Regions from separate parts of the Homo sapiens genome. Here region 2 is linked to region 1. The links come from fine-mapping of genetic effects on gene expression. Tissue or cell type: whole blood. Region 1 holds a variant in brackets; the other region holds the start of a gene. All regions are shown on one strand. Distances are from middle to middle.

The links. PIP is the estimated chance that this variant, and not a neighbour inherited with it, causes the effect.
Region 2: PLVAP starts here. The variant in region 1 is fine-mapped to the expression of PLVAP in whole blood (TOPMed, PIP above 0.99).

The regions. Positions count from the first base shown.
Region 1 is chr19:17,430,803-17,433,484 of GRCh38, forward strand. No RefSeq gene overlaps it. Among named protein-coding and RNA genes, the nearest start is that of MVB12A, 12 kb to the left of the region's middle. The variant C/G (reference allele first, on the strand shown) is at 1,451.
Region 2 is chr19:17,376,116-17,378,797 of GRCh38, forward strand. It overlaps PLVAP (plasmalemma vesicle associated protein), which reads right to left and starts at 1,227. Exons shown (of 6, transcript NM_031310.3): 1 at 805-1,227. The coding sequence starts at 1,173. LOC105372298 (a long non-coding RNA gene) reads right to left here. Exons shown (of 3, transcript XR_936362.3): 3 at 2,675-2,682.

The sequences.
Region 1 (2,682 bases):
AAATTTTTTGTTTGTTTGTTTTTGAGATGGAGTTTCATTCTTGTTGCCCAGGCTGGAGTGTGATGGTGCAGTCTCAGCTCACTGCAACCTCTGCCTCCTGGGTTCAAGCGATTCTCCTGCCTCAGCCTCCCTAGTAGCTGGGATTACAGGCGCCCACCACCACGCTCGGCTAATTTTTGTATTTTTGGTAGAGATGGGGTTTCACCATGTTGGTCAGGCTGGTCTCGAACTCCTGACCTCAAGTGATCCGCCCACCTCGGCCTCCCAAAGTGTTGGGATTACAGGTGTGAGCCACCGTGCCCGGTCCTTATTTCTGTATTTTTAGTAGAGATGGGGTTTCACCACGTTGGCCAGGCTGATCTTGAACTCCTGGCCTCAAGTGATCCACCCGCCTCGGTCTCCCAAAGTTCTGGGATTACAGGCATGAGCCAACATGCTGGCCTAATTTTTGTATTTTTAGTAGATATGAGGTTTTACTGTGTTGGTCAGGCTGGTCTGGAACAGCTGACCTCAAGCGATCTGCTCACATTGACCTCCCAAAGTGCTGGGATTACAGGTGTGAGCCACCATGCCTGGCCATTTCTCTTTTCTTGAGACAAGGTCTCACTCTGTTACCCAAGCTGGAGTGCGGTGGTGCAATCATGGCTCACCGCAGCCTTGACCTCCTGGGCACAATCTATCCTCCCATCTCAGTCTCCCTAGTAGCTGGAACTATAGGTGTGTGCCACCACACTTGGCTACATTTTTACTTTTGTAGAGATGGGGTCTTGCTATGTTGCCCAGGTGGGTTTCTCTCCTATTGCTTACTCCCAGGCTCCACAGGGGCATGGGTACTGAGAGTGGCATTTCTGGATAGACGTGATCCCAGCTCCTCTACTCAATAGCTGCTGACCTTGAGCTGCGGCTTAAACTTCTCTGCGCCTCAGTTTCTCCATCTTTACAATGGGAACCTCAACATTCCTCATCTCATGGGATACGTGTAAGGGAGAATGCATAGGACCCGTGTCTCTCAGCTGCCCCTGATGACTCTTGAAGAAACACCTCTTGACTCTGACAGGCCTTTGAAGGTGGAAGGTTTCTGCAGCCTGACATCCAGGCAGAATGGATGATGTGACTCCCCGTGAGTGGCCTCTGCTAGTGGCAAACCCTATACTTCCTGTATTCAAAAGTGGCAGAGGGGCTGGGCTCTGTGGCTCAGCCCTGTAATCCCATCACTTTGGGAAGCTGAGGTGGGAGGATCACTTGAGTCCAGGAGTTTGAGGCCAGCCTGGGCAACATAGGGAGACCCCAGTCTCTATAGTATTTTTTTTTTTTTCCAAGACAGAGTCTCCCTCTGTCACCCAGTCTGGAGTGCAGTGGTGTGATTGTGGTTCCCTGCAACTTCCATCTCTGGGGTTCAAGTGATTCTCCTGCCTCAGCCTCCTGAGTAGCTGGGACTACAGGCGCCCAC[C/G]ACCACCCCCGGCTAATTTCTTTTTTTTTTGACATGGAGTCTCGCTCTGTCGCCCAGGCTGGAGTGCAGTGGCGCAATCTTGGCTCACTGCAAGCTCCGCCTTTTGGGTTCATGCCATTCTCCTGCCTCAGCCTCTCAAGTAGCTGGGACTACAGGCGTCCGCCACCATGGCCAGCTAATTTGTGTGTGTGTGTGTATTTAGTAGAGATGAGGTTTCACCGCATTAGCCAGGATGGTCTCAATCTCCTGACCTCGTGATCTGCCCGCCTCAGCCTCCCACAAGTGCTGGGATTACAGGCGTGAGCCACGGCGCCCAGCCTAATTTCTTCCTTTCTTCCTTTCTTTCTTCCTTTCCTTTCTTTCCTTTCCTTTCTTTCATCTCTTTTTTCCTTTTCTTTCCTTTCTTTTCCTTCCTCCCTCCCTCCCTCCCTCTCTCTCTCTCTTTCTTTCTTTCTTTGTATTTTTAGTAGAGACGGTGTTTCACCTTGTTGGCCAGGCTGGTCTTGAACTCCCGACTTCAAGTGATCTGCCCGGTTCAGCCTCCCAAAGTGTTGGGATTACAGGTGTGAGCCACAGCGCCTGGCCATGACCAGCTAATTTTTGTATTTTTAGTAGAGATGGGGTTTTGCCATGTTGGCCAGGCTGGTCTTGAACTCCTAGCCTCAAGCAATCCGACTGCCTTGGCCTCCCAAAGTGCTAGGATTATAGGAGTGAGCCACTGTGCCCTGCCTACTTTTCTTTTAAACAGATAGGGTCTTGCTCTGTTGCCCAGGCTGGATCGTAGTGGTTCAATCACTGCTGATCTTCTTGCCTCAGCCTCTCAAGTAGCTGGGACCACAGGTGTGCACCACCATGCCTGGCTAATTTTTAATTTTTTTGTAGAGCTGGAGTCTCCCTATGTTGCCCAGGCTGGTCTTGAACTCCTGGCCTCAGGTGATCCTCTTGCAAGAGAACATCTTTGACAGATACTGTCCACACCCTAGAACATACCAGAATGCTGACAGAGCTTGTGTTTGCGAGGCCTGTGGAATTAATGGAGACATTTCTACCCTTTTCGACTGGGGCCTTGTGCCTATGGCTTGTTGGGTAGGGGAGATCACCTCCGTTTGTAAAGAACGAAACTGAGTTTGCATTACTGTTCCTTAAGGCAGGTCTGCCCAGCTCCCGGAACACTCTGAAAGCCGCACGCCAAACCCATATCAGGTGCCTGGAGTCTGGAGGTTTTGGCTGCA
Region 2 (2,682 bases), 55 kb before region 1:
TTCAGTGAGCTATGCTCACATCACTGTGCTCCAGCCTGGGTGACAGAGTGAGACCCTGCCTCCAAAAAAAAGAAAAGAAATAAAAAAAATTTAGCTGGACGCAGTGCCCCACACCTGTAATCCCAGCAGTTTGGGAGGCTGGGGTGAGAGGATTGCTTGAGCCCAGGAGTTCGAGACTAGCCTGGGCAACATAGTGAGACCTCATCTCTGCTAAATATAAACATATTAGCTGGGTGTGGTGGTGCACGCCTGTAGTCCCAGCTACTCAGGAGGCTGAGGCAAGAGGATCACTTGAGTCCAGGAGATTGAGGTTGCAGTGAGCTGTGATAGCAATTGCACTCCATCCAGCCCAGGATACACATGGAGACCCTGTCTCTTAAGGAAAAAAAAAAAATCTATCGGCCGGGTGCAGTGGCTCACGCTTGTAATCCCAACAATTTGGGAGGCCAAGGCAGGCGTATCACTTGAGGTCAGGAGTTTGAGACCAGCCTGGCCAACATGGTGAAACCCCATCTCTACTAAAAATACAAAAATGAGCCGGTTATGATGGCACATGCCTGTAATCCCAGCTACTCGGGAGGCTGAGGCAGGAGAATCACTCCAACCCAGGAGGCAGAGGTTGCAGTGAGCCGAGATTGCACCACTGCACTCCAGCCTGGGAGACGGAGCGAGACTCTGTCTCATAAGAAAAGAGAGCATTGGTCCTGTGATCGTCCCCCTCTCTTGGATGAGGAAACTCAGGCTCAGAGAGGTGAGGGGGCTTGCTCAGGGTCCCCAGGGCGAGTGTCCTGCCCACAGCCTTACCCGGTCACCCTGGCACTGGCGGAAGCTGGCATTGATGCGGTCCAGGTCGCGGCGAGCATTCAGCCACATCTGCATGATGGCATCCTTGGCGCGGGTGGTGAAGTTGAGCTCCTTGGTCAAGTTGGACTGGGAGGCCGTGAGCCCTAGGAGCTGACTGTATAGGCCCTCGGCTCGGCGCTCGGTGGCCTGCAGGTTGGACTCTGTGCTCACGTGCACGTTGCCATAGACCATGAAGAGCACGAGCCCCAGGATGATGAGGAATTGGATGAGGGAGACGAAGAGGAAGAAGTAGCGCAGGTAATACCAGCAGCCCCGAGAGCTGCCCCCCGCCCGAGCGTAGGACCCTCCGTGCTCCATGGCCAGACCCATTTGCTCGATCCCGCCGTCCGGTGCACCGTCCCTGCTCACCACCAGGCCTGCTCTGGCCCCCGCCTCGCAGGGGGGAGTGCTTATATTACTCCTCTTAATACTTCCTCTGCCTGGCTCCTTCCTGGCCCGGAGGAAACGGGGGCTGCGGGTTATCACAACACTCCCACTCTGGCTGTGAGAAGGCGGGGGTGGGGCTGGGGGCCCAGAGCCAGGGCACCGGCTGGACCCCTCTGATTAATGCTGGGTGGGGCGCTGGCTGGCTGGTCAGGCATTCCTGGCCTCTTCGAGCCTCGCGTTCGCCTTTACTTGCTGGCGGGTGCTGTTCTCAGTACCTGCTGTGATTAGGTCGCTGAATCATGCCAGGTCTGTTGCTGTCTCCCTTGTGTGGCGGAGGAAACTGAGGCACAGGGAGGAGAAGGGGTTGCCTCGGGGTCTCACGCTGTTAGTTCAGCGAACTTGACTTACCTCAAGACAGGCTGGCTACAGACGTGCACCCACTTCACCAGGGCGGTGCTGATTAAGTGCCACAAAACGTGGGAAATGTGCCAGGCACGGTGGCTCACGCCTATAATCCCAGCACTTTGGGAGGCTGAGGCGGACGGATCACCTGAGGTCAGAAGTTTGAGACCAACCCGGTCACCGTGGTGAAACCCCCCGTCTCTACTAAAAATACAAAACTTAGCCAGGTGTGGTGGTGCTCGCCTGTAATTCCAGCTACCCAGGAGGCTGAGGCAGGAGAATCGCTTGAACCCAGGAGTCGGAGGTTGCGGTGAGCAGAGATCGTGCCATTGCACTCCAGCCTGGGGTATAGAGCAAGACTCTGTTTCAAAAAAAAAAAAAAACAGAAAAAGTGTGAAACTCTTAGCTAGCCTAGGGATGGAGAAGCAGTAGGTGATTAGTAATTGCATAGGAGGGCGTCACGGAGGGCTGAGCCATGGATGGCGGTGGCGCTGGCTCCCCAAGCTCTGTCATTGCCCCCAGTGCCCTGTTCACTTAGATGCTCAGTAAATGCTCCAGGAAACTGCAGCACAAGGAATAATGAACTTGGAGCGGGGAAGAGCTGGCTTTGTCCCGGGAGAGCTCGGGCAAGAGGCCTCGCATGTCTGTGCCTCCCTTTTCCCCTTTGTGAGACGGGGTATACCCAGTGCCTCGTCACTCTGTGGCTGTTGTTATGATTAGGATCATTTCCTGCTGGAGGCACTGCTGGGGGCTCCGTGAGATGGTGAATGACAAGTGGTGGATACGTGGGACTGAGATTCCTCCCCCGACACTCAAAACCCCATGGGCGGCCGGGCATAGTGGCTCACACCTGTAATCTCAGCACTTTGTGAGGCTGAGGCAGGCGGATCACCTGAGGTCAGGAGTGCGAGACCAGCCTGGCCAATATGGTGAAACCCCATCTCCACTAAAAATACAAAAATTAGCCGTGTGTGGTGGCGAGCACCTGTAATCCCAGCTGCTTGGGAAGCTGAGGCAGGAGAACCACTTGAACCCGGGAGGCGGAGGTTG